Regions from separate parts of the Homo sapiens genome. Here region 1 is linked to region 2. Evidence: fine-mapped expression QTL. Tissue or cell type: monocytes after R848. Region 2 holds a variant in brackets; the other region holds the start of a gene. All regions are shown on one strand. Distances are from middle to middle.

Region 1 (2,909 bases), 20 kb after region 2:
CAAGTATGTATATTTTTATTTTTTCAATAAAACAATAAAGATGGGTCTCGCCAGCCTGGTCTCAAACTCCTGAACTCAAATGGTCCGCCCACCTCGGCCTCCCAAAGTGCTGGGATTACAGGCGTGAGCCACTGCGCCCGGCCGGTCTGTGTGTATGTGTGTGTGTGTGTGTGTGTGTGTGTATATTTTTTTTTGAATTGAAACGGAGTTTTGGTTTTGTTGCCCAGGCTGGAGTGCAGTGGCATGATCCCGGCTCACTGCAACCTCTGCCTCCTGGGTTCAAGCGATTCTCCTGCCTCAGCCTCCCAAGTAGCTGGGATTACAGGCGCCCACCACCATGCTCGGCTAATTTTTGTATTTCTTATGGAGACAGGTTTTCACAGTGTTGGCCAGGCTAGTCTGGAACTCCTGACCTCAGGTGATCCATCCGCCTCGGCCTCCTAAAGTGCTGGGATTACAGGCATGAGCCACCTCGCCTGGCCGGCCTGTGTATTTTTAAAGGAAATAACCTAAGAGTTGTTTTTCCAGATTTTCAAAGAGGTCCTGTAAAGATTAAGAACCACTGAACCTTTCTCGTTTATGTGATCCTGGTTACTGTTCTCAGGAATAGCAGGACACAATGTCAGCTTTAACCCAGGCTAGTTCCTCTAAACTGCCTTCTTATCGGTGAAATGAAAATAATAGGGTTGCTATGGGGATTAAATGAGATGATACTCAAAAAAATGATAATTAATGATAAATCATAAGGTGTCTGCCACAAAGTGCCCCTATTATAAACAAACAGTGGCCTGGAGGGACAGTTTATAAATACTGCTCCTTTAGCATTCCACTAACATTGACTGAGTGCCTGTTCTACACTGTGTAGAGGCCCTGGTGAAAAAGATCTGCCTTCCAGTTTATTATCTAGTCGAAAGAACCGCAAAAGATAACAAAACACAATAGACTGAACGCCCTGAGAGGGGCATAAGTGCAGTGCTCTAGGAGCTGTAAAAGAGGTCTCGATATCCACTGGAGGAAAGTGCTTACTGGAGTTCATTTCTGGAGTGGGTTTAAAAGATGAACAGAGGGAATCTAAAACATTCACACAAAATCAATACTACACGTACACATTTTATTATTTTGTGGAAAGACCACTTAGAAACACCGCAATCACTTCTACTACTCAGCAGATACTGAGCAGTAGGTTTCGTGACAGAGCACCTGTCTTTTGTCCAGTCTGTTTACTATACATTGCGTGCTCTGGGCAGTCCTTATCTTCGTGTTCAGGAACAAAGTACACACACCCCTTTCCGAAACGAAGGGCCCAGGGACTCCGAGAAGGGTGGGAGCCCTCACGGCCAGGCCACACAATGGGGAGCCTCTTTACCCTAGTCATCACCCACCCTTGCAGGCCCCACTTTGCCAGGGTGCGACTTCTCGGGCCCCTTCGCCCCTCCCCTGCAGCCCCCAGGAGCGCAGCCACAGCCCGGCCGGGCGCCCTCCCTGTCTCTCTCTCTCTTTCTCTCTCGAGCTTTCCTCCTCCTTCACCGGGAGCCGGAAAACCCGGAGCGAACCAGCCCAGCACGGCAGCGCATGCTCAGTAGCGAGCAGGTTCAGTTCGCTAGTAGGAAGCTCCAGCGCTACACCGGCGGCGGCGGTGGCGGCGGCGGCCGCGGCGGCACCTCAGGGCAGCCAGATTCCCCAACAACGACCTCCGGTCCTTCCCCTTCCCCGCGAGACCTCCGCCCCAGCTCCGCCCCGCCCGGGGCTCTTGCGTTTCGGAGTCCCAACTACGCGGAGCGGGCGCCGCGGCCGGAGCGTCCCTCCACACGTCCTCCCCCAGCCGCCAGCTCCGCCGCGGGGCCAGACCGGGCCCGGGAGTGCAGCCCCGGCGGGCGGGCGGCGGCCGCGGCAGAGGGCAGCCCGGGGCGGCGCCGGCGGGCCGGGGAGGGGCGGGGGGCCTGGCCCCGGGGCGGTGGTGCGGGATGCCGCCGCCTCCGGGCCGCGTCCGTTCTCCACGGCTGGTACCTGTGTCGGGTGGGTGGCCAGGCGCGGGCCTCGCCCCCCAGCCCCCTCGCCAGGGCTAGCCCGGCTGCGCGGCGCCCGGAGGGGGCCGGGCCGTCCGGTGGGGCCGCGGCCCTGTTCCGCGCTGCGAGCTCGCCCTCTCGCGGCTCCCTGGCCCGGCCGCCGCCGCCCCTCTCCCCGCCCAGAGGCGCCCCGGGGGCACCATGCAGGCGCAGCAGCTGCCCTACGAGTTTTTCAGCGAAGAGAACGCGCCCAAGTGGCGGGGACTACTGGTGCCTGCGCTGAAAAAGGTGAGGAGCACGCGGGACCCCGCTTCCCGGCCGCAGCCCCCCAGCGCGGGCGCTGGGGAAGGGCTGGGGAGGCGGGGCGCGCGCAGGGCCGTCTTTCTTCCCGGTCTCGCCGCGTCTCCAAAAGGACGGCGCACACGGAGAGGCCCCCCTCATACGGCTGGCTCTCGGTGTTGACATCCACCGGGTGTGTGGGAATGCCGCAGGGAGCCGGGGGGAGTTTATCCGGATAATCCAACCCCTGAGAGGTGAATGCTTTGCCCTTTGATTCCAGGACAACAACAGTTGGAGGAGCCTCAGTTTTCAGCGGAGGTCAAAGCAGGCCACTTTTCCGTCTTCTTGGTCTTAGCCCGGAGCTGCTGTCAGCCTACCGTTTTAGGTGTCCAGTACGCTGGTTTTAGTGGCTTGAGAATGCCCTGGCCGTAAGGCTTGCTCAAAGGAATTGCGAGCTCGCCTGCCAGTAGGAACGTGGCCTGCTCTGCTCGCCGTCAGTATTCACTCCTCATTCTCCTGGTTTCCCCCGCTCCTCCGATTAACAGGGGCTGGTGCACATGCTACCAATTTCAGGGGGGTTTTGTTTTGTTTTTGCAGCGTTCGAGATTCTTGGTGCTGTCATTT
Region 2 (2,909 bases):
TGCCATTATTTCTTGGGGCTTTTTTTGTTTTGTTTTAGCTTTCTTCTTTTTTTTCTTTTTTTGAGACAGAGTCTTGCTCTGTCACCGAGGCTGGAGTGCAGTGGTGCAATCTCAGCTCACTGCAGCCTCCGCCTCCTGGTTTCAAGCGATTCTCCTGCCTCAGTCTCCTGAATAGCTGGGATTACAGGTGTGTGCCACCATGCCTGGCTCATTTTTGTATTTTTAGTAGAAATGGGGTTTCACCATGTTGGCCAGGCTGGTATTGAACTTCTGATCTCAAGTGATCCGCCTGCCTTGGCCTCCCAAAGTGCTGGTATTCCAGGCATGAGCCACCGAACCCGGCCTTGTTTTAGCTGTTAATATAAGTTAACATTAATCAGGAAAAGGGCTTTAATCTCCTCAACTCCCAAGTATTGCTTTCCCAAGCATCTCCTTTATGGTCTATGTATTCTTGACAATTTTCTGATTTTAGAAAAATACTCCCCTTACATACTCTATGGTAGTCTACTCAATGAGATATTAATTTTGGTAAATACAAATTTGGTGACAAAAAGATTCTGCTTGGTTTTCTGCTGAAAAAGACACAAGCAATTGATTAAATCATCAACGCAAACTGAAATGTAAATCCCCAACCAAACCTTCTCGGAACCACACCCAACTTTCTGGGTAGTAGGGCAGAGCCTGGAGAAATAGGTCAGCCAGGGCTGCAGGGAGCTAGAAAGATAGATGAAAGAGGGAGGATCCCATTCATTTTCAGTGCCATCCACTGTTTTAGGAGCATTACTGTAATTATGTCATTTAAAGAATACAAATAAGAGTATGGAAAAGGGATTTGGGATTCGAACAGAGGTCAAAAAATTCCTTGCCTGTCTTTATCCAGCAAGTACAAAAACATTTCTTGGCAGAAGCTGACAATGACAGATTCCAGGACGGCCTGGGTAGAGGTGGCTGCCAAGAACAGTCACCTCTTAGGAAGTCTAACACCTCCCCCCACCCCAAACAGGTGGCCGGGTCTTTGTAAGACTTGGCTAAACAGCCGATATAAGAAAGTGTGTGTTTAATTTTGGAGAAAGGGCCTGCTGTTTTATATGATTATTTTTAATTAGCTATTTTCTGAGGTTTGATTAAATTTGGAAATAATTGCATCTTGGGAACTATTCCAGAACCTCAGATTGTAAACCTAGGGCTGCCTCAGGAATTTGGGGATGGGTTGTCACCCTCTGACCAATTGCCAGTCCTGAAAACAAGCATCCTTTGTCTATAGAAGAGGTCGTGGCCATGCAAATTTTTCTAGTTCTTCTCTGCCTGGAAAGAGAATCCCATCTGGCTGACTTCTCTTTTTTCTCTATTTTCTTGTATGAAATATGCAAAACACAAATGCATGAGCCACCAGAGCAGCAGACTATGTCGCCTGAATATTGCAGATAAAATGGAAACATGACAAGAAGTTAAAATTTGCCCTTGGAAAAAGCATGCAAAATACACTTTATTTGCA[T/C]AATGACATTACAACACTTTTAATACATCCAGAAGGGGAAGTCAAGTAAATTATGGGGGAAAAAAGAAAATTGCCAGTTTGAAAAAATTCAGTCATAAATAAACTGTAAAGAGAAATCATTTAAGGATCTAGAATATTTAAAACTGGGATGTGAACTCACTGTTTTATAAATAGAAAAACCTGTTTCATTTTTTGTTTGAGACGGAGTCTTGCTCTGTCACCCAGGCTGGAATGCAGTGGTGCGATCTCAGCTCACTGCAACCTCCGCCTCCCAGGTTCAAGCCATTCTCCTGCCTCAGCCTCCCAGGGAGCAGGGACTACAGGCATGCGCCACCACGCCTGGCTAATTTTTTTTTTTTTGTATTTTTAGTAGAGACGAGGTTTCACTATATTGGCCGGGCTGGTCTCGAACTCCTGACCTCAAGTGATCCACCCGCCTTGGCCTCCCAAAGTGCTGGGATTACAGGCGTGAGCCATGGTGCCTGGCCAAAAAAACCTGTTTCTTTGTAGTGTTAAGATTATGTGTCTGACCCATTTCTGTTTATCACTTTGCAATTTACAAAGCACTTTTACACCCATTATACTATCTGATACTCATGACAATCTATGAGTTAGGTAGGGCAACTATTATTAGACCTGGTTTATACATGAAGAAACTGAAGTTCAGAACAGTGTTGTTCAAGGTCATACATGAGCTTTAATTGGAACCCACGTGCAGGTCTTGACTTTCAAAACTCCTGGACTCTTTACACAATATCCCACTGCTTCTATTCTCTTCCTGAAAATATTACGAAACTAAATAAGTTAACCATAGGGCAAACTCCTTAGTTAATTATATTTACAAGCACAAATTTAGAAAGGCTTTATAGTGTGGTCGTGAAGACCATGGAATGTGAAACCACTGCTTAGCTGTGTGACCTGGTGTAAACTACTAAACCTTCTATGCCTCAGTTTACTCTTCTGTAAGATAGGAATAATAAAAGCCCTTATCTAATCCAGGTTTCCAAAGCAACATGTGAGTTAATACATGTTAAGCACTTGGTACAGTTCCCGGTTCACAGTAATCACTTAATAAGTGCAAGGTATTATTGTTTTTGCAAATTAATTTTTGTGTTTAGGTTACTCCAATAAGAGTAACTGAGATATTTTAAGTAGCTTTGTATGTGTTGTATTACATAGATCCTAAAACTATACAAAATAAAAACTGAAACCAGATATTTCACTATCTCTAGTTTGCTCTTGCCAACTATAAATATATTTCTCTGTTATCTGATTTGGGATCAGACCTCAGAGTCAAATTAATTCGCCTAAAGTCATAACAAAATACTGTAATTTACATCAACCTTGCATCATCCTAGTCTAAGAATCACAGAGACTTCAATGTAATTTGGAACAGCCTTTTGCCCTTTCCAAA

Which allele goes with the higher level. Positions count from the first base shown, and alleles are read on the strand shown. Sizes are in standard deviations (SD) of each study's normalised expression.
As copies of C replace T in region 2, the expression in monocytes after R848 of the gene that starts at base 1,579 in region 1 goes down (large effect, 1.5 SD a copy in Quach 2016).

Evidence for each region.
Region 1: SOS1 starts here. The variant in region 2 is fine-mapped to the expression of SOS1 in monocytes after R848 (Quach 2016, PIP 0.95). The same link has a PIP of 0.9 or more in monocytes after LPS and monocytes after Pam3CSK4.

What each region holds. Positions count from the first base shown.
Region 1 is chr2:39,119,721-39,122,629 of GRCh38, reverse strand. It overlaps SOS1 (SOS Ras/Rac guanine nucleotide exchange factor 1), which reads left to right and starts at 1,579. Exons shown (of 23, transcript NM_005633.4): 1 at 1,579-2,294. The coding sequence starts at 2,208. RefSeq lists a silencer at 1,710-2,429 and an enhancer at 2,630-2,709.
Region 2 is chr2:39,139,941-39,142,849 of GRCh38, reverse strand. No RefSeq gene overlaps it. Among named protein-coding and RNA genes, the nearest start is that of SOS1, 20 kb to the right of the region's middle. RefSeq lists a silencer at 594-778 and a cis regulatory region at 522-974. The variant T/C (reference allele first, on the strand shown) is at 1,496.